Homo sapiens: one gene and its partners. The protein of the gene in region 2 purifies or fractionates together with the protein of the main gene of each other region. This does not show direct contact. Each region holds a gene or a part of one and is shown on either strand. Other genes may lie near its edges. The genes, in order: CRY1, YTHDC2, ZCRB1 and PIP5K1A.

Region 1 (6,085 bases), on a different chromosome or scaffold from region 2:
TAAACCAAAAAAGATAAAAAAAGACAAAGAAGGGCATTACACAATGGTAAATGGATCAATGTAACAAGAAGAGCAAATTATCTTAAATATATATATGCACCCAAAACAAGAGCACCCAGATTCATAAAGCAAGTTCTCGGAGACCTACAAAGAGACTTAGACTCCCACACAATAATAGTGGGAGACTTTAACACCCCACTGTCAATATTAGATCAATGAGACAGAAAATTAAGAAGGATATTCAGGACTTGAACTCAACTCCGGACCAAGCAGACCTAGTAGACATCTACAGAACTCTCTACCCCAAATCAACAGAATATACATTCTTCTCACACCACATAGCACTTATTCTAAAATTGACCAATAATTGGAAGTAAAACACTCCTCAGCAAATGCAAATAACGGAAATCATAACAAACAGTCTCTCAGACCACAGTGCAATCAAATTCGAATTCAGGATTAAGAAACTCACTCAAAACCACACAACTACATGGAAACTGAACAATCTGCTCCTGAGTGACTACTGGGTAAATAAAGAAATTAAGGCAGAAGTAAGTAAGTTCTTTGACACCAATGAGAACAAAGAGATAACATACCAGAATCTCTGGGACACAGCTAAAGCAGTGTTAAGAGGGAAATTTATAGCACTAAATGTCCATATCAGAAAGCAAGAAAGATCTAAAATCGACACCCTAACATCACAATTAAAAGAACTACAGAAGCAAAAGCAAACAAATTCAAAAGCTAGCAGAAGACAAGAAATAACTAAGATCGGAGCAAAACTGAAGGAGACAGAGACACGAAAAACCCTTCAAAAAAATCAATGAATCCAGGAGCTGGTTTTTTGAAAAGATTAACAAAATTGATAGACTGCTAGACAGACTAATAAATAAAAGAGAGAAGAATCAGATAGACACAATAAAAAATGATAAAGGGATATCACCACTGATCCCTCAGAAGTACAAACTACTATCAGAGAATACTATAAACACCTCTATGCAAATAAACTAAAAAATCTAGAAGAAATGGATAAATTCCTGGACACATACACTCTCCCAAGACTAAACCAGGAAGAAGTCACATCCCTGAATACACCAATAACAAGTTCTGAAATTGAGGCAGTAATTAGTAGCCTACCAACCAAAAAAAGCCCAGGACTAGATGGATTCACAGCCAAATTCTACCAGAGGTACAAAGAGGAGCTGGTACCATTCCTTCTGAAATTATTCCAAACAAAAGAAAAAGACGGACTGCTCCCTAACTCATTTTATATGAGGCCAACATCATTCTGATACCAAAACCTGGCAGACACAACAAAAAAAGAAAATTTCAGGTCAATATCCCCAATGAACATCAATATGAAAATACTCAATAAAATACTGGCAAACCGAATCTAGCAGCACATCAAAAAGCTTATCCACACGATCAAGGCAGCTTCATCCCTGGGATGTAAGGCTGGTTCACCATATGCAAATCAATAAATGTAATCCATCATATAAACAGAACCAATGACAAAAACCACACAATTATCTCAATAGATGCAGAAAAGGCCTTGGACAAAATTCAACACCGCTTCATGCTAAAAACTCTCAATAAACTAGGTATTGATGGAACGTTACTCAGAATAATAAGAGCTATTTATGACAAACCCATAGCCAATATCATACTGAATGGGCAAAAGCTGGAAGCATTCCCATTGAAAACTGGCACAAAACAAGGATGCCCTCTCTCACCACTCCTATTCAACATAGTATTGGAAATTCTGGCCAGGGCAATCAGGCAAGAGAAAGAAATAAAGGGTATTCAAATAGAAAGAAAGTCAAATTGTCTTTGTTTGCAGATGACATGATTGTATATTTAGAAAATTCCATTGCCTCAGCCCCAAAACTCCTTAAGCTGATAAGCAACTTCAGCAAAGTCTCGGGATACAAAATCAATCAGCAAAAATCACAAGCATTCCTATACACCAATAATAGAGAGTCAAGTCACGAATGAACTCCCATTCACAACTGCTACAAAGAAAATAAAATACCTAGGAATCCAACTTACAAGGGATGTGAAGGACCTCTTCAAGGAGAACTACAAACCACTGCTCAAAGAAATAAGAGAGGACACAAACAAATGGAAAAACATTCCATGCTCATGGATAGGAAGAATCAGCATCATGAAAATGGCCATACTGCCCAAAGTAATTAATAGATTCAATGCTATTCCCATCAAGTTACCATTGACTTTCTTCACAGAACTAGAAACAACTACTTTAAATTTCATATGGAACCAAAAAAAGAGCCTGTATAGCCAAGACAATCCTAAGCAAAAAGAACAAAGCTGGAAGCATCATGCTACCTGACTTCAAACTATACTACAAGGCTACAGTAACCAAAATAGCATGGTACTGGTACCAAAACAGATACATAGACCAGTGGAACAGAACAGAGGCCTCAGAAATAACACCACACACCTACAACCATCTGATCTTGACAAAAACAAGAAATGGGGAAAGGATTCCCTATTTAATAAATGGTGCTGGGAAAACTGGCTAGCCATATGCAGAAAACTGAAACTGGACCCCTTCCTTACACTGTATACAAAAATTCACTCAAGACGAATTAAAGACTTACATGTAAAACCTAAAACCATAAAAACCCTAGAAGAAAACCTAGGCAATACCATTCAGGACATAGGCATGGGCAAAGACTTCATGACTAAAACACCAAAAGCAATGGCAACAAAAGCCAAACTTGACAAATGGGATCTAATTAAACTAAAGAGTTTCTGCACAGTGAAAGAAACCATCATCAGAGTGAACAGACAACCTATAGAATGGGAGAAAATTTTTGCAATCTATCCATCTGACAAAGGTCTAATATCTAAAATCTACAAGGAACTTAAACAAATTTACAAAAAAAAAAAAACCCATCAAAAAGTGGGTGAAGGATATGAACAGACACTTCTCAAAAGACATTTATGTGGCCAAAAAACATGAAAAAAAAGCTCATCATCACTGGTCATTAGAGAAATGCAAATCAAAACCACAATGAGATACCATTTCATGCCAGTTAGAACAGCGATTATTAAAAGTCAGGAAACAACAGATGCTGGAGAGGATGTGAAGAAATAGGAACGCTTTTACACTGTTGGTGGGAGTGTAAATTAGGTCAACCATTATGGAAGACAGTGTGGTGATTCCTCAAGGATCTACAAACAGAAATATCATTTGACCCAGCAATCCCATTACTGGGTATATACCCAAAGGATTATAAATCATTCTACTATAATGACACAGGCACATGTATGTTTATTGTGGCACTGTTCACAATAGCAAAGACTTGGAACCAACCCAAATGCCCATCAATGATAGACTGGATAAAGAAAATCTGGCACATATACACTGTGGAATATGAAGCAGCCATAAAAAAGAATGAGTTCATGTCCTTTGCAGGGACATGGATGAAGCTGGAAAGCATCATTCTCAGCAAACTAACATAGGAACAGAAAACCAAACATCGCATGTTCTCCATAAGTAGGAGTTGAACAATGAGAACACATGGACACGGGGAGGGGAACAGCACATACCGGGGCCTGCCAGGGGTTGAGGGGCAAGGGGATGGAGACCATTAGGACAAATACCTAATGCATGTGGGGCTTAAAACCTAGATGACAGGTTGATGGGTGCAGCAAAACCACCATGGCACATGTATACCTACGTAACAAACCTGCAGGTTCTGTACATGTATCCCAGAACTTAAAGTATTAAAAAAAAAGCAAAAACTAAAGCTGCTTACAAGAGCTTAGAGAACTCAAAACAAAACAAAACAAAAACAAAAAACCTCATACACAAGAAAAACTTTAAAACTTTTTAGAGACTGGTTAAGAGGTTGTGATAAAAATGCTGATTAAAATATAGACAGTAAAGGCCACGTTCATGAGATCTCAAATAAAATTTTTAAAAACTAAAACAAAAAAATGGCCACATTATATGTTATGCTTGTTAACAAAAAACTTGGCTACATTGTATCCATGCCTAGGACTTTGTAAAAGGCTGAACTTAAGAGTAATGACTTAAGCTACCTGGCAAAAAAAAGTTTCTAAACAACAAAGCGTTCAAAAGGTGACATGGCTGCTTCTAACAGCCTACTATCAGATATGGGAGTTCAAAAAAAAGACAAAGTTAAAGCTAATAATTAAGAGAAAAACAGAGCATACAAATTTGAAAAATTTACAACCTAACCATGTGGTAGAGGGAAGTTTTCAGGAGAGAAATCCAAACTACCTAGCCCCAGGTACCAGGCCCTGACAGAACAGGTTGTTAAAGCAATTAACATGAATAAAAGAGAGCCAGTTGTTAACAGTCAAGACAATGGGGAAAAGCCCCCAAGACATTCCAGAAATCAAGGCTACCCCTTCCATCACAGGCTCAGAGGCCTCCTCGGGCAAAATGGTTTGGGAGGCCAGGCCCAGGGTGTTGCTGCCTTGTGCGGTCTTGAGATGCTACTCCCCACGTTCTGGCTGCTCTGGCTGCAGCCAGGGCTCAAAAGGCCCCAGGTACTGTCTGGACTGCCACTCCAGTGGGTGCAAACCATAGGCCTTGATGGTTTCCAAGTGGTGTTAAGTCTGCAGGTATACAGAATACAAGATCCATGGAGGTTTGGCAGCTTCCACCTAGATTTCACAAGATATGTCAAGAAGTCTGGCTGTCCAGGCAGAAGCCTGCCACAGCAGAGCTCCTACAGAGAGATTCTACTAGGCTGGTGCCAAGGGGAAATATGGGGTTACAGTCCCCACAGAGAACTCACTGTAGAGCAGCGGGAACAGGGGCACTGCCCTCCAGGACCCACAGTGGTGGCAGTCTAACTAAAGCCAAGAGAAGAAGAGAAAGGTGTGGTCAAATGTGTTAAATACTGTTAAGAAAAAGAAAAAGAAAGAAACAAAGAAAGAAAGAAAAAGAAAGAAAGGAAAAGAAAAGAGAAAAGAAAAAAAGAAAAGGAAAAGAAAAGTCAGGGAGTGGAAAGATTAAAAGTATCCTTTGGATGTAAACAGCATACACCCTCAGCCTGGAAAAGTGACAGACATTAGACTCCAATCCATGAGAGCAGCCATGTGGGCTATGCCCAACCAAGCCATAGAGATGCAGCTGCCCAAGGTTTTGAGAGCTCACCTCTTGGACCAGTGTGCTCAGGATGTGGGAGGGAGTGGAAAGTGAGGAAGTGGAAAGATTAAAAGAATCCTTTGGATGAAAACAGCACACACCCTCAGCCTGGAGAAGTGACAGACATTAGACTCCAATCCATGAAAGAAGCCATGTGGTCTGTGCCCAACCAAGCCATAGAGATGGGGCTGCCCAAGGCTTCAAGAGCCCACCTCTTGGACCAGTGTGCTCAGTTATGGGACAAGAGTCAAGCGAGATTATTTTACAGCTTTAAGATTTAATGTCTGCCCTTGTAGGTTTCAGACTTGGGTGGGTCCCTTTTTGTTGGTCAATTTGTCCCTTTTAAAATGAAAATATTTACCCAATGTCTGTTCCACCATTGTATCTTAAAAGTAGATAACTTGTTTTTGATCTTACAGGTTCATAGCTATAAGGAATCTGCCTTGAGTCTCGGATAAGATTTTAGACTTTGAGTTGATGTTGAAACTAGTTAAGATTTCTGGGGACTTTGAAAGAGATGATTATATCTTACAATAGAAAAAAGAGGGTGGGCATGGTGGCTTACACCTATAATCCCAGCACTTTCAGAGGCTGAGGCAGGAGAATTGCTTTAGCCCGGGAGTATGAGACAGCTTAGTGAGATCTCACCTCTACAAGTAATAAAAAAAATTACCTGGCCATGGTAATGCATGCCTGTGGTCCCAGCTACTTGGGAGGCTGAGGTGGGACAACTGCTTGAGCCCAGGTGGTTGAGGCTACAGTGAGCCATGATCACGCCTCTGCACTCCAGCCTGGGCAACAGAGTGATACCCCGTCTCAAAAATAAAAATAAAAATAATAAATAAATAAGACAAGATATTTGGGGGGCTAGAAGTGGAGTGATATAGTTTAGATATTTGTCCTTTTCAAATCTCATGTTAAAATGTTATCCCCAAT
Region 2 (6,085 bases):
AACCCTAGTATAATACTCCATGAGAAGATCAACCCCAAGACAAAAAAATCATCAGATTCTCCAAGGTCTAAAGGAAAGAAAAAATGTTAAGGGCAGCCAGAGAGAAAGGCCAGGTTACATACAAAGGGAAGCCCATCAGACTAACAGTAGACCTCTAAGAGGAAACCCTACAAGCCAGAAGAGATTGGGGGCCAATATTCAACACTCTTAAAGAAAAGAATTTCCAACCCAGAATTTCATATCCAGCCAAACTGAGCTTTATAAGTGAAGGAGAAATAAGATCCTTTTCAGACAAGCAAATGCTGAGGGAATATGTCACCACCAGGCCTGCCTTGCAAGAGCTCCTGAAGGAAGCACTAAATATGAAAGGGAAAAATCCATTACCAGCCACTACAAAAACACACGGAAGTACACAAACCAGTAACACTATGAAGCAACCACATAAACAAGTCTGCAAAATAACCAGCTAGCATCATGACAGAATCAAATTCACACATAACAATACATAACCATAAAAGTAATATTGAAGGTAAATGGGGTAAATGTCCCAAGTGAAAGGCACAGAATGGCAAACTGGATAAAGAGCCAAGACCCACGAGTATGCTGTCTTCAAAAGACCCATCTCACATGCAAAGCCACACATAGGCTCAAAAGAAAGGGATGGAGGAAAATTTACCAAGCAAATGGAAAACAGAAAAAGGCAGTGGTTGCAATCCTAGTTTCTGATAAAACAGACTTTAAACCATAAAGATCAAAGAAAGGCATTACACAGTGGTAAAGGGCTCAATTCAACAAAAAGAACTCATGATCCTAAATATATATGCAAGCTAATACAGGAGCACCCAGATTCATTAAACAAGTTCTTAGAGACCTACAAAGAGATTTAGACTCCCATACAATAATAGTGGGAGACTTTAACACCCCACAGACAACATTAGACAGATCATCAAGACAGAAAATTAACAAAGATATTCAGGACCTGAACTCAGCTCTGGATCAAGTGGACCTGATAGATATCTACAGAACTCTCTACCCAAAAACAAGAGAATATACATTCTTCTCATCGCCACATGGCATTTATTCTAAAATTGATCACATAACTGGAAGTAAAACACTCCTCAGTAAATGTAAAAGAAGTAAAATCATAACAGTCTATCAGACCACAGCACAATCAAATTAGAACTCAAGACTAAGACATTCACTCAATACCACACAACTACATGGAAACTGAACAACCTGCTCCTGAATGACTCTTGGGTAAATAACAAAATTAAGGCAGAAATCAAGAAGTTATTTGAAAGTAATGAGAACAAAGAGACAATGTACCACAATCTCTGGGACACAGCTAAAGTAGTGTTAAGACGGAAATTCATAGCACTAAATGAACACATCAGAAAGCTAGAAAGATTTCAAGTTAACCACCTAACATCTCAATTTAAAAAATTAGAGAACAAAGAGAAAACAAACCCAAGCTAGCAGAAGACATGAAATAACTAATATCAGAGCAGAAGTGAAGGCGATAGAGACAGGAAAAACCCTCCAAAAAAATCAGCAAATCAAAAAGCTGGTTCTTTTTAAAAATCAATAAAACAGACTGCTAGCTAGATTAATAAAGAAGAAAAGAGAGAAGAATCAAATAGACACAATAAAAATGATACAAGGGATCTCACCACTGACCCCATGGGAATACAAACTACCATCAAAGGATACTATAAACACCTCTATGCAAATAAACTAGAAAATCTAGAAGAAAGAGGTAGATTCCTGGACACATACATACTCCTGAGACTGAACCAGAAAGAAGCTGAATCCCTGAATAGACCAATAACAAGTTTGGAAATTGAGGCAGTAATAAAGAGCCTACCAACCAAAAAAGCCCAACCAGATGGATTTACAGCTGAATTCTACCAGAAGTACATAGAAGAGCTGATACCCTTTCTTTTGAAACTATTCCAAACAACTGAAAAGGAGGGACTCCTCCATAACTCATACTGTAAGACCAGCATCATACTGATACCAAAGCCTGACAGAGATACAACAAAAAAGAAAACTTCAGGCCAATATCCCTGATGAATATCAGTGCAAAAATTCTCAATAAAATATGGGCAAACCAAATACAGCAGCACATCTAAATGCTTGTCCACCACAATCAAGTTGGCTTCATCCCTGGGATGCAAGGCTGGTTCAACATATGCAAATCAATAAACATAATTCATCACATAAACAGATCTAAAGACAAAAACCAAATGATTATCTCAATAGATGCAGAAAAGGCCTTCAATAAAATTCAACATGTCTTCGTGTTAAAAACTCAATAAACTAGGTAGTAAAGGAACATATCTCAAAATAATAAGAGCTATTTATGACAAACCCACAGCCAGTATCATACTGAATGGGCAAAAGCAGGAAGCATTCTCCTTGAAAACTGTCACAGTACAAGGATGTCCTCTCTCATCACTCTTATTCAACATAGGATTGGAAGTTCAGGCCAAGGAAATCAGGCCAGAGAAAAAAATGAAGAGTATTCACGTCGGGTGGGTGCAGTGGCTCATGCCTATAATCCCAGCACATTGGGAGGCCGAGGTGGTAGATCACTTGAAGTCAGGAGTTTGAGACCTGCCTGGCCAACATGGTGAAATGCCAAATCTACTAAAAATACAAAAAAAATTAGTGGAGTATGGTGGCAGACGTCTGTAATCCCAGCTACTCCGGAGGCTGAGGCAGCAGAATTGCTTGAACCCAGAAGGCGGAGGTTGCAGTGAGCTGAGATCACACCGCTGCACTCCAACCTGGGCGGCAAAGTGAGACTCCATCTCAAAATAAAGAAATAAAGAGTATTCAAATAGGAAAAGAGGAAGTCAAATTATCTTTGTTTGTAGTTGATATGATCTACATCTAGAAAACCCATTATCTCAGTCCAAAAGCTTCTTAAGCTGATAAGCAACTTCAGCAAAGTCTCAGGATATAAAATCAATGTGCAAAAATTGCTAGCATTCCTATATACCAACAACAGGCAAGCAGAGAGCCAAATCATGAATGAATTCACATTCACAATTGCAACAAAAATAAAATACATAGGAAAAGGCCAAGCATGATAGCTCACGCCTGTAATTGCAGCACTTTGGGAGGCCAAGGCAGGCAGATGGATCACCTTGAGGTCTGGAGTTCAAGATCACCCTGCCCAACATGGTGAGACCCTGTCTCTAGTAAAAATACAAAAATTAGCCAGGAATTGTGGTGCGTGCCTGTAATCCCAGCTACTCAGGAGTCTCAGGCAGGAGAATTGCTTGAACCCAGGAGGCGGAGGTTACAGTGAGCTGAGATTGTGCCACTGCACTCCAGCCTGGGTGACAGAGCAAGACTCCATCTCAAAAAAATGAAATAAAATAAAATAAAGTAAAATAAAATACCTAGGAATACAGCTAATAAGGGAAGTGAAGGACCTCTTCAAGGAGAACTACGTATCACTGCTCAAAGAAATCAGAGAGGACATAAACAAATGGAAAAACGTTCCATGCTCATGGATAGGAACAATCAATATCATGAAAATGGCCATACTGCCCAGAGAAATTTACAGATTCAATGCTATTCCCATTATACTGACAGTCTTCACAGACTTAGAAGAAACGATTTCAAAATTCTTATGGAACCAAAAGAGACCATATAGCCAAGACAATCCTAAGCAAAAAGAACAAAGCTGAGGCATCACGCTACCCGACTTCAAGCTATACTACAGGGCTACAGTAGCCAAGACAGCATGGTACTGGTATAAGAACAAACACATAGAATGATGGAACAGAATAGAGAACTCAGAAATAAGACCACACACTTACAACCGTCTGATTTTTAACAAACCTGACAAAAACAAGCAATGAGGAAAGGACTCCTTATTTAACAAATGGTGCTGAAAGAACTGGTTAGCTATATGCAGAAAACTGAAACTGGGCCCCTTCCTAACACCTTCGACAAAAATTAACTCAAGATGGATTAAAGACTTAAATGTAAAACTCTAAACCATAAAAACCCTCGAAGAAAATCTAGGCAATACCATTCAGGACATAGGCACAGGCAAAGATTTCATGATAAAAACGCCAAAAGCAATTGCAGCAAAAGCAAAAATTGACAAATGGGATCTAATTAAACTAAAGTTTCTGCACAGCAAAAGAAACAACTATCATCAGAGGAAACAGACAACCTACAGAATGGGAGAAAATTTTTGCAATCTATCCATCTGACAAAGGTCTAATATCCAGAGTATACAAGGAACTTAAGCAAATTTACAAGAAAAAACAACCCATTAAAAAGTGGGCAAAGGACACGAACAGACACTTTTCAAAAGATGTACATGTGGCCAACAAACATATGAAAAAAAGCTCAACGTCACTGATCATTACTGGAATGCAATTCAAAACCACAATGAGATCAGAATTGCTATTATTAAAAAGTCAAAAAACAACATGCTGGTGAGGTTGTAGAGAAAAAGGAACACTTTTACACTACTGTGTAATTAAATTACACTAGTGTAAATTAATTCAACCACCATGGGAGACAGCATGGTGATTCTTCAAAGACCTGGAGGCAGAAATACCATTTCTGGGTAAATACCCAAAGGAATATAAATCATTCTATTATAAAGATAAGTACATTTGTATGTTCAGTGCAGCATTATTCACAATAGTAAAGACATGGAATCAACCCAAATGCCCATCAATGGTAGGCTAGATAAAGAAAATATGGTACATATACACCATGGGATACTATGCAGCCATAAAAAGGAATTAGATCATGTCCTTTGCAGGGACATGGCTGAAGTTGGAAGCCATTATCCTCAGCAAACTAATGCAGGAATGGAAAACCAAACACCGCATGTTCTCACTTATAAGTGGGAGCTGAATGATGAGAACACATGGACACAGACAGGGGAACAACACACACTGGGGCCTACTGGGGGTGTGTGGTAGAGGGTAGGGAGAACATCAGGAAGAATAGCTAATGGACACTGGGCTTGATAGATACATGATGTCATGATCTGTGCAGCAAACCACCATGGCACACCTTTACCTATGCAACAAAACTGCACATCTTGCACATGTACCCCTGAACTTAAAATAAAAGTTGAAGGAAAAAAATGCATTATGCCACTTCAATGTGATATACTATTTTGCAGTCATTAATATAAAATACTAAAAATATTTTTGATATCTCTGTAATGAAAATAACAAAATATAAAATAACAGTTTGGGTGAAATAATTTAAAATATGTAAACATGTAGAAAAAATATAACATTAAAAAGTGTTAGCATGAGAAAAATGAGATTATGGGTGGCTATTATTTCTTTTACAATTAACTTTATTTACGTTAAACTATCATTTAAATTCAAGTGGAAAAGAAAAATTTCTTCCCAACAGCAAGATTAATAAAAAATGCACAAATAAACATCAAGTTACCTTATAAATAAATTTCAAAAACAGTAGTATACCTTAGTATTTCCTAATTAGTCTTAGTACATCAAAATAGAGCTGCTACTATATAAATCTTTATAATTTCATTATTTGGTTTAGTAAAATAATTTCATTATTTGGTAAAAAAAAAAAATTCATTTCAAATAGATTTTTATTTCCTTAATACATTTACCTCTAAAGGATGAAGGTTCCTGAAGAGCATTACTTGCCAATCTAGCTGGTCCACAGAATACCAATATAGTGACAGGCGTCACTGCTGAACAACATCTAATATTAGCTATTCTATGGGCTCTGGTCATTTCATCATAAATAAGCCAATCTGTGGGCAGTGCCTTAATTGCTGCAGCTTGACCATTGGCTGGAGGAATCTATTAAGAAAATAAATTTTAAAAATTGTTAATTGTGTTTATCACCTAGTTTATTGGAAATACTTTTAAAATGTAAAGTCTCTCAATGAAATAGATGATGTATATTAGTACGTAAGCAAAAATTAAAACAAGTCATCGCTCATGTAGTTCGTACAAAAGTACTCATTACTTAACATGTTACCTTTTCCAACTCTAAAATTTATAAGTTTTGTTCCAATATTTAATGATATATATATATATATATATATAACTAA
Region 3 (4,840 bases), on a different chromosome or scaffold from region 2:
TAGAGATGGGGTTTTACCTTGTTGGCCAGGCTGGTCTCGAACTCCTGAGCTCAGGCTGTCTGCCTGCCTCAGGCTCCCAAACTGCTAGGATTACAGGCATAAGCCACTGTGCCCGGCCCATTTTACCCATTTTTATGTGTACAACTTAGTGCCATTAGGTACATTCACAGTATTGAGCAACCGTCACCACTAGCCATTTCCAGAACTTCTCATCAACTGAAACAGAAACTATGCATTAAATAAATAGCCCCCCTTTCTACCTCCCTTCAGACCCTGGTAACCTCTATTTTCTGTCTCTATGAATTTCACGTTGCCTATTCCAGGTGCCTCATGTAAGTGGTATCATACAATATTTGTCCTTCTGTGTTGCTTTAACCTTCTTAGTTTTCATATAACTCAGGTTAAGTAAATCGTCTACGATCAGCAGCTTTAAGTGGCAATATGGCCATAGAAACCTAAGTGTATCTGTCAAAAAAAAGAGCATACTCTTAACCATTCTGCACTGCTACTTTAGCAGTGAGCATTTCCCCCTTCCATATGCAGATATGTATCCATATATAGCAAGTGTTTTACACTTGACATTGTATCTGGAATGTTTTCTCATACAATTAAAAATTCTTTGAAACATTTTAATGCTTCCTAATAATCTATTATTGTGAATGCATCATGCTTTAATTTGCTGTTGACAATTCTTTTTCTTTTTTTCTTTTTTTGAGACAGAGTCTCACTCTGTCACCCAGGGCTGGAGTGCAGTGGTGCGATCTGGGCTCACTGCAGCCTCTGCCTCCCTGGTTCCAGCGATTCTTGTGCCTCAGTCTCCTGAGTAGCTGGAATTACAGGCATGTGTCACCATGGCTTGCTAATTTTTGCATTTTTAGTACAGATGGGGTTTCACCATGTTGGCCAGGCTGGTCTCGAACTCCTGGCCTCAAGTGATTCACCTGCCCTGGCCTCCCAAAATGCTGGGATTACAGGTGTGAGCCACCGTGCCCGGCTGACAATTGTTTTGAATTTTAAATAATATGTTTGTACATAAATAAATACCTGCATTTCTGATTAGAACCCTAGGATAAAATAGAATGTAATTTCTAGTTAAAAAAATAGAACATACTTAACATTTGATATTTATTGTTAAATTACCCTTCAGAATTGATCCAGGGCATGTATGCGATACCACAAGTGCTTTTAATGCCATCCTCACCAACACTGAAGTGTTTTTTTCCTAATTAGGTTAAAATTGATGTATCACTGGTTGTAATAGATTTCCTTAATAAGTAATGATAAACTTTTTTACTTTTTTTTTTTAAAGACAGGATCATGCTGTTTCCCAGGCTGTCCCGCCTCAGCCTCCCAAGTAGCTAGGACAACAGGTGTGAGTGGCTAATGTTATTTTTTGTAAAGACAGTCTCCTTATGTTCCCCAGGCTGGGCTCAAACTCCTGGCCTCGAACACTCCTCCTGTCTTGACCTCCCAACGTGTTGGGATTACAGGTATGAGCCACTACACCTGGCCTATTTTATCTTCTAACTATTCTATTTGTCACTAATTTATTTCCTATTAGAGTCTGTTTTCAGGTATTCATAGAAACTTTTATATATTTGTGGCAAATCTTTTCCCAATTATTTGCTTTAAAATGGTAGGCCGGGCACAGTGGCTCATGCCTGTAATCCCAGCACTTTGGGAGGCCGAGGCGGGTGGATCACAAGGTCAGGAGTTTGAGACTAGCCTGACCAACATGGTGAAACCCCCAACTCTACTAAAAAAATACAAAAATTAGCTGGGTGTGGTGGCACGTGCCTGTAATCCCAGCTACTTAGGAGGCTGAGGCAGGAAAATGGTCTGAACCGGGGAGGTGGAGGTTGCAGTGAGCTGAGATCGCACCACTGTACTCCAGCCTGGACGACAGAGTGAGACTTCGTTTCAAAAATAAATAAATGAATAAAAATTAAAAAAAAAAAACAAACCAAAACTGTTGTGGTATTTGACTAATGGCCAAACAGATGGTTGAGTACTGCATTCAATCATTGTCTTGTTGCAATCTGGAAGATTCTTTGCTGGTGGGTGGTTAACACTTTGTAGTTTTCAAAGTGGAAACACAAGATTTTATAATGAAATTTCAAATATCTTTTTAATATATTTTTTCTTGGGATGACAATAATAATATTACTATGATAGTATTAACTTATTTCTATTGCTTTTACTAGTTAAAAAAGTAATGGGCATTCTTACAAAGTTAAACAATATAGAAATATACAAAGCAGAAAATTAAAGGCTCTCTAATCCCATTACCATATACCCACCTGCAGACAGAATGGGAAGATTTAGTCATAAATACAAAGACAATACATGGAAAAAAAATAGACAATTATTAACTCTAGGAAAAAACGTAATCATAGCATATTCCTTGGCTCAGAAATGAAAAGTATTTACTTGGTTATTAAAAAAGATATATATGGATTCCCCCAAATTTTTAATACAGCCACATTGGGAATATTGAGGAAGGTAGGAGAAGTATAAGAGATTGAATAATTCTCCTTTATTCTTTTATTAAGTGACTGAAATATATGTACTTTATTTAGCTACATGTGTGCACATGTAAGTAGTTTCTTCTAGGGAATGGAATTTGGTGCTATGGGTAGGGCAGACAAATAACACCTGTGTTTGATTTTAAGCCTTTTAGAGCTATGTTACTTTATATTTTATAGGTATTTATAATTTATTTTATAGGTATTTACAATTTATCCAGATTGGGATAAAGCTACAAGAAATATGATGACAAAACACCCATATTTAAAGACAAAATTCTCTTGAAAAGTTTATTAATATAAGTAACAATAAATCATTCAACTTTTCGGTCTTCAGGAAGTTTGTTTTAAGGATTAATTTCAGAAGTCCTCATGTAAACAAATCAGGCATGAATAAAGCCCTTATAATGAACTTTTCAAATAAATTTTTAAAATATCTTTTTTCTTGGGATGACAATAATAGTATTAACATGATAGTATTAATTTTTCTTATTTTTATTAAAATTAGCTCTTCAAGATTGTTACTAACAAATCTTGATTTTTATTACTGTGCTGGGGCAAGATTTTAATCACTAAGTTCTTCCTCATCACTGAAATATGTGCTTTTCTTTATCCTTGGGCGTCTTGAATCATCTGATGTTGAGGGGACTCCTGAACTGGGTTTCCATTTTTTTTGTTCTTCTTCAATTTTGGCTTGCTGTGATTCAAAAAACAAAACAAAACCAATAACCTGTTTAATATTATTTATGGTTCATTAATTCAAAACATGGCAAAAACATACCACAAATGCCATTACTTCCCACCCTCCCAGTCCATGCAGACAATAAGATCTGCTCCCTTCCCCTGAGTTCTGTCTCATCTCAAAATCTTACACAAAATTATCCTAGGCAATTTCTTAAAAAAATCTTTTCTGTTGGGCTATATTCACTTTGAGCAAATAGTTCTGCTCATTTCTTTAATGAAAAAAGATTAAGATAGTAAGTGTTGTGGGGCCCTTAAAATCTAGGAAGAACCAATGGGAACTTTTCATTCACACTGGCTAAGTACCTCAGAGAAACAGCTTGTCTCCTAAGGCTTAGGAGGTTAGGGGGAAAAAGAGAGGTTGCCATGAGGTGATCAATGAAGTAAGCAAGCACTATAAACCAAGTCAACTATTGTATGATGCCTTTTAAAAGAACAATTTAATACCTGGAATGCTATGGCCTGACTGAGGCTGTCAAGAGCAGGATCCTCCCCTTCATCTTCACTTTCTTCTACTTCCTCACTTAAATAAAGAAAAACAAATTGGAATGTAACCAACCAATAATCAAAAGCAACCAACCAAAAGACAAAAGCAACATGATGATGTATTTAGTAAGAATAATATACATACATTTCTTCTTCTGGTTCAGGAGCTTTCTTTTTTTTCTTTTTTTCTTTCTTCTTTGGAGGCTCACGTTCTCCGAGCATATTTTTCGGACAGGCATAACTTAAGTGTCCACTTTCCTTTTGTTTCCCATTAAAAAGGAAAGGAAAAATACCATATTTGATGTTATTTATAAAAACTTGCCTGGTACCTTATTACTAAAAAGTTTTCAAATTTAAAAAGGAATATTCCCATACTGGGACTATACAGAAGACATTAATGATAAAACCCAGTACTTTAATATTTAGAAGGTGATATTATAACTCTCAGTTATTTTAACATTTAGGACTATTTAGTAGTTTTACTAAGAGTAGTGGTAGTAGTCTTCTTTCAAACATTTAAATCTCAAAATTCAAGATATAAAACAGTTTGGTCGGGCGCGGTGGCTCACGCCTGTAATCCTAGCACTTTGGGAAGCCGAGGTGGGTGGATCACCTGAGGTCTGGAGTTTGAGACCAGACTAACCAAAATGGTGAAATCCCGTCTCTACTAAAAAAAAAAAAAAAAAAAAAAAAAAAAAAAAAATTAGTTGGGCATAAGTGGCACACACCTGTAGTCCCAGCTACTCAGGAGGCTGAGGTAGGAGAATTGCTTAAACCCAGGAGGTGGAGGTTGCAGTGAGCTGAGATCATTCCGTTGCACTCCAGCCTGGGTGACAAGAGCAAAACTCCGTCTCAAAAAAAAAAAATCAAAATTTAAATGGATCATTTACCCTAAATGTAAACATCTTAAGTTATTGATAAAACGAGGATAAAACTATTCCTGTTAATTTCCAAGATGTTGCTTAATACTCTGTTGGGCTGGGCAGGCTGAGGCAGGTGGGTCACCTTAGGAAGTGAGTTCAAGACCCGCCTGGCCAACATGGGGAAACCCTGTCTCTACTAAATATACAAAAATTAGCTGGGCTTGG
Region 4 (6,085 bases), on a different chromosome or scaffold from region 2:
AATATAAAGCAGAAGCCTTTCCCCTTTACTATTCCGGGCAGGGATGCCACCCATACTGGAAAAGGCAAAAAGGAAAGGGTGAGAAAATCTGTTGGCTAGTTTAGTCAGATCAGGATGGGGAAGTGAAACCTACACATAACTGCCTCATCCTCCATAAACCAGAAGGTCAGATAATAAGTGATCAAGAAAACAAAAAGAGAAAAAAATACATTAAAAAAACAGGAGAAAATGAGATCCTTCCTCTAACCCCAGGAACTCTCTACAGTATGTATTATAATCTAGTTTTCTCCAAATCTTCTTGCCTACCTCTTCCACTCTGATTCCACCAAAGAGAATCTAAAATTGCCACTACTCAGCAATTTTGGGAATGCTCTCCTAATTAACTCAACTTCTTCAGTACTTTTGCTATCTTAATTTATGCCCACTAAGACACTCTTCTTGAGAGTCATATTACAGGATACCTTAAAAAAATGAAACAATCTAAGATATTTGTGACACTTCAGTAATTACACTTACTAGGCATGATGAAGAAGGATGCCTTCCACAAAGAAGTCTATAACAATTTTTTTTTTTTTGACACAGGGTCCCATTCTTTTTGCCCAAGCTGGAGTGCAGTGGCATGTACAGTGGCTCACTGCAGCCTTGACCTCCTGGGCTCAAGCAATTCTGCCTCATCAGCCTCCTGAGTAGCTGGGACCACAGGTGCTCACCATCACACTCAGGTAATTTTTGAGTTTTTGTAGTGATGAGGTCTCATCATGATGCTCAGGCTGATCTCAAACTCCTGGACTCAAGTGATCCGCCTGCCTCAGCCTTCCAAAGTGTTGGGATTACTGGCATGAGCCACTGTGCCCAGCCCTAATAAAGTTCTAATATAATTTGCAGACATGCATTTAAGACTATAATTTTTTAAGTCTTTAACTCTTGAACAGCTCTCCTTCCCACATATACTATAAACCCGAAATTAATCTTCTTTTCATTTTGTATTAAGAAAGCTCGTTCAAGCTCATTCTATACTTCTGTCAACAATAATGTTACTGATCCAACTGCTGAGTCAAGGCTACTCCTTTCCAGAAGCTGGGTCCCTTCCTAAAGAAAAAGTGCTGTGGCCGGGCACGGTGGCTCACGCCTGTAATCCCTGCACTACGGGAGGCCAAGGCGGGTGGATCACCTGAGGTCAGGAGTTCGTAGACTAGTTTGCCCAACATGATGAAACCCCTTCTCTACTAAAAATACAAAAAATTAGCTGGGTGTGGTGGCAGGTGCCTGTAGTCACAGCTACTCAGGAGGCTGAAGCAGGAGAATCGCTTGAACCCAGGAGGTGGAGGTAGTAGTAGGCTGAGATCGTGCCATTGCACATCAGCACATCAGCCTGGGCAACAAGAGTGAAACTAAAAAAAAAAAAAAAAAAAAAAGAAAAGAAAAGTGCTGTGGGCCTATGTTCTCCCCCCTAGTGGCCCTGAGCCCACTTACTGGTCATCAGTCTCCATGGTACCACCCCGTCGAGCCTCTCCCTGGATGGATTCCATGGCTGTGGAATACAGAGCCTTTTGGGGGGCCGGTCTTCGAGTATCAACTGAGTACTGTGTTTCACTGCTTAAGGGCTCTCGTTGTGCATGATCTATATTATGGATTGACATCAAGAGGCTGTAATCCATTATCTTGAAGCTCTGCAGCACCTAATGGAAGGAAAAAAACATGATCTGAGCCTTGGAAGAAATAAAAATATTTTTCAGGATCTCACAATTTTTTTGTTTTTTTGAGAAAGGGTATCAATCTGTAACCCAGGCTAGAGTGCAGTGGTGTGATCTCGGCTCACTGTAGCTGCAACCTCCCAGGCTCAAAATATCCACCTACTTCAGCCTCCCAAGTAGCTGGGACTACAGGCACACACCACTACACCTGCCTAATTTTTTATTTTTCATAGAGACGGTTTCACCATGCTGCCCAGCTGGTCTCTAATTTCTGGGCTCAAGGGATCTGCCTATCTCAGTCTTCCAAAGTGCTGGGACTATTGGTATGAGCCACCACGCCTGGCTTGACAGCTTTCATGATGTAATTATTTAATTTAGCCTTACAGTGAACCTGTAAGGCTAAATTTTTTTTTTTTTTTTTTTGAGACGGAGTCTTGCTTTGTCGCCAGGCTGGAGTACAGTGGCGCGATCTTGGCTCACTGCAACCTCCAACTCCCTGGTTCAAGCGATTTTCCTGCCTCAGCCTCCCAAGTAGCTGGGATTACAGGCACGTGCCACCACACCCAGCTAATTTTTGTATTTTTAGTAGAGTTGGGGTTTCACCATGTTGGCCAGGCTGGTCTCGAACGCCTGACCTGGTGATCTGCCTGCCTCAGCCTCCCAAAGTGCTGGGATTACAGGCGTGAGCCACCACGCCCGGCCTGGTTAGTCTTTATTTACATACCCTTAGCTTTCTCTCATTTGAGTTAATATAATTTTTCCAAGTCCCACTGCCTAGCCCACAAGACCATCTTTGTTCTTTCCATGTATGTCTCCATGAAGAGAACACTACCTTCTCAAAAGAACAAGGAATACATATTTGTGCTGTGAAGATTCCACAATGAGGTTCTGGTAAAGTACACTTTGTGACAGAACAGATCTGTGGTAGGACCTTGTATGACTAGCTTCAATTCAGTTAAACATTTACTGAATCTCCACCATGTAGGCACTGTGCCTCCTTACAGAGATATAAAGATATTAAAGAGAGAGTTTCTGTCTTCAAGGACATTATACATTTAGAAAGGGATACAAATGTAAAATAAACACAATACAGTTTAATATGTGCAACAGTGGGAAGTGTTCACATGACAGAAGAGTACAGAGGTCAAGAGTGATATCTAGGCCGGGTGCGGTGGCTCACACCTGTAATCCTAGCACTTTGGGAGGCCAAGGCAGGCAGATCATTTGAGGTCAGGAGTTTGAAACCAGCGGGACCAACGTGGTGAAACCCTGTCACTACTAAAAATACAAAAACGACCCAGGCGTGGTGATGGGCGCCTGTAATCCCAGCTACTTGGGAGGCTGAGGCAGGAGAATCGCTTGAATCTGGGAGGTGGAAATTGCAGTGAGCCGAGATCGTGCCATTGCACTCCAGCCTGGGTGACAAGAGTGAAACTCCATCTCAAAAAATAAAAAATAAAGTAAAATGTAGATACATTTATCCATTGGTGACAGGGGCAGCATGAGAGGATGAAATAGGATAAAAAGTTAAGGTAGCTTGTTGAGAAACAAAGCTAGGGAGATGAGAGTCAGAAAATGGTTTGATTAGAATGCCAAACATCTGAAATCCCTATTGAGAGCAACAGCAAATGGACTGAAGATCGATATTGAAAGCCCAAGTGGGGTTGGATATCATAATTCTGTAGATGCCAGTATACACGGTTGTGTAATATTCTTCAGCAGCACTCAGCTTCCAAAATATAAATTTGGATTTGGCAGCCAGGACCAAAATCTGAGGAAGGATGATGTTGGTATGAAAATAAGCAGAACATTTGACTGTGAGGCCCAGGCTAGCTAGAGAAGGAAATAAATCCCATTGTGGGAGGATAAACGGGGAGAAAGTAAAAATGTAAAGGAATGGCAATGAACTAATTAAGACTTATTTTAAATACAGCCCAGGACATACAGTGCTAAGGAACAGAGTTCCATCTCCCACAAACTTAATGCCTAAGAACAATCAAGCTGTTTTAGTAACTGAGATTTTTGATGTCTAAGTAACAAACTCACCAAACAGTCACGCTGCAGGGTCTTACAGAGAGCGTTGTACATGTCAGCATCCAAAAAAAGACCATCAGGGATGTCTTGTAAGAAGTCTAGGTCTTTAAATGTGGGAAGAGGCTTCTCTCGCTCTTTCTGGGAAGCCCGCCGTTTGTAGGTTGAGCCTTTGAGGTCATATTTGATATGCATTTTTACCGATCTTGGTAAAAGATTGTTCATCACCACAATCCGAATGTTCTTGCCACCTGCCTGCACACAGTACAGTCCATAGAATTTAGGCAGCAAAGTCCGAGGGTTCTGGTTGAGGTTCTGAGAACACAAAAGGAAACAGAAGTAGGAGAACAACTTAGCTGATTTTCAGTGAAACTCACCAGTAAAAGTTACCACCCATCCTCCCTTTATCTCCTATATGAGATTTAGACACAATGTGTCCATAAACCTACATCATATATGCTTTACATTTCCCTATGCATCTATTTCAATGGTAAGTTCACCATCAAGCTGTGCCACAGACTCTCCAATACAGAAATCAGCCAGGATACCAATATAAGATGGATATATTTCTTCAGAGAGATTTAAGAGAAGACGACACTCTCTGCCCTGGGTATAGTATATTCTTGGGGATGGTAAGGCAGGTAAGGAGAGTTACCTAACTTCTCCAGAACCTCCAATAGCAATCAGAGTAAGGCTGCAGAGAGTATTACCAAGGGAAATAACCTACCTCATTCCCCAAACTAGAAGCTGAACTAAGAACAGAAGACGAAAATAGCCAGGTGCAGTGGCTCATGCCTGTAACCCCAGCACTTTGGGAGGCCAAACAGGAGGATCACTTGAGCTCAGGAATTTGAGACCAGCCTGGGTAACATAGCAAGACCTCATCTCTACTAAAAATTTATAAAAATTAGGCCGGGCACGGTGGCTCACGCCTGTAATCCCAGCACTTTGGGAGGCCAAGGCAGGCGGATCATGAGGTCAGGAGTTCAAGACCAGCCTGACCAACATGGTGAAACTCCATCTCTACTAAAAAATAAAAAATTAGCTTGGCATGGTGGCGCATGCCTGTAATCCCAGCTACTCAGGAGGCTGAGGCAGGAGAATTGCTTGAACCTGGGAGGCGGAGGTTGCAGTGAGCCGAGATTGTGCAACTGTACTCCAGCTTGGACAACAAAGCGAGACTCCGTCACGAAAAAATAAAAGAAAATAAGTTTATAAAAATTAGCCAGGTGTGGTGGTGCGTGCCTTTAGTCCCAACTACGTGAGAGGCTGAGGTGGGAGGATCACTTGAGCCTGGGAGATCAACAACACTTAAAACAGAACAGATAAACAAAACCCCTTTTACCATAGAGAGGCAAAAGAAATGGGGTGAAAAGCACAAAACTGAACAACATTTTTTTTTTTTTTTTTTTGAGACGGAGTCTTGCTCTGTTACCCAGGCTGGAGTGCAGTGGCAGGATCTCGGCTCACTGCAAACTTCGCCTCCCAGATTCACGCCATTCTCCTGTCTCAGCCTCCTGAGTAGCTGGGACTACAGGCGCCCGCTACCACGCCTGGCTAATTTTTTGTATTTTTAGTAAAGACGAGGTTTCACCATGTTGGCCAGGATGGTCTTGATCTCCTGATCTTGTGATCCTCTTGCCTCGGCCTCCCAAAGTCCTGGGATTACAGGCATGAGCCACCGTGCCTGGCCTGAACTACACTCTTAAGATAGAAGTGCTGACACTGTTTTACCCTGCTGAAGACAGCCTCCCCAGCCTTGCCCAGAAGTGAGCAGCACAGGTGGACAGTGCTTCTCTCTCCCTTACCATGTAGTATCCTGGAAGCAGCTTCTGCAGAAATTCCGCCTCTTTATGTTGGACTGTCTTAATAATGAACTCATCGTCGCTGGACACATAGAATAGGGAACCACTAGCTCCAGAGCTACAGAGTTCAATCAGCGGCTCACTGCAGAGGGAATACTGGGGCAAACAGAGAAGAACTAAGAGATTTAGACACATCAGGGCCTTGCCCAACACAAAAATCAACTACAGATGCAATTCTTTTCTAAATAAAAACCAGAGCGAGACTGTGGAGAAAAGGGGCCTTCCTTTGGGAATATCCCTCTGATACTGGAGTCACAGTGTCCTGATATCCAGATGCTTACCAAGTAATCATCGGGCCGGATACCAAATAGCTCCCGGAAGTAGCGGAAGGCAACAGGTGCATAGGTCTTGAAACGAAAGTCATTGTAGTGATGAGCAGGGGTCAGGTTGCTCCCTTCACTGTGGGGTTAAACAGAGGTAGCCATAACTTGCCAGTCCCTATCATCCAGAGAATCTACCTTGCGAAGACACTCAGAGTCACCTCATGGTGGGGGG

What was found.
Region 1: the proteins of YTHDC2 (region 2) and CRY1 purify together in Homo sapiens (co-immunoprecipitation; one large-scale study listed by IntAct). This does not show direct contact.
Region 3: the proteins of YTHDC2 (region 2) and ZCRB1 purify together in Homo sapiens (co-immunoprecipitation; one large-scale study listed by IntAct). This does not show direct contact.
Region 4: the proteins of YTHDC2 (region 2) and PIP5K1A purify together in Homo sapiens (co-immunoprecipitation; one large-scale study listed by IntAct). This does not show direct contact.

What each region holds. Positions count from the first base shown.
Region 1 is NC_000012.12:107,082,072-107,088,156, forward strand, and holds part of CRY1 (cryptochrome-1), read right to left. Parts: intron 1-6,085.
Region 2 is NC_000005.10:113,567,400-113,573,484, reverse strand, and holds part of YTHDC2 (3'-5' RNA helicase YTHDC2), read right to left. Parts: intron 5,832-6,085; coding exon 5,636-5,831; intron 1-5,635. UniProt on the Homo sapiens protein: 3'-5' RNA helicase that plays a key role in the male and female germline by promoting transition from mitotic to meiotic divisions in stem cells.
Region 3 is NC_000012.12:42,309,977-42,314,816, forward strand, and holds the end of ZCRB1 (zinc finger CCHC-type and RNA-binding motif-containing protein 1), read right to left. Parts: intron 4,011-4,840; coding exon 3,898-4,010; intron 3,790-3,897; coding exon 3,714-3,789; intron 3,223-3,713; coding exon 3,091-3,222; 3' UTR 2,110-3,090; downstream 1-2,109.
Region 4 is NC_000001.11:151,232,152-151,238,236, reverse strand, and holds part of PIP5K1A (phosphatidylinositol 4-phosphate 5-kinase type-1 alpha), read right to left. Parts: intron 5,990-6,085; coding exon 5,872-5,989; intron 5,687-5,871; coding exon 5,534-5,686; intron 4,041-5,533; coding exon 3,741-4,040; intron 1,680-3,740; coding exon 1,474-1,679; intron 56-1,473; coding exon 1-55. UniProt on the Homo sapiens protein: Catalyzes the phosphorylation of phosphatidylinositol 4-phosphate (PtdIns(4)P/PI4P) to form phosphatidylinositol 4,5-bisphosphate (PtdIns(4,5)P2/PIP2), a lipid second messenger that regulates several cellular processes such as signal transduction, vesicle trafficking, actin cytoskeleton dynamics, cell adhesion, and cell motility.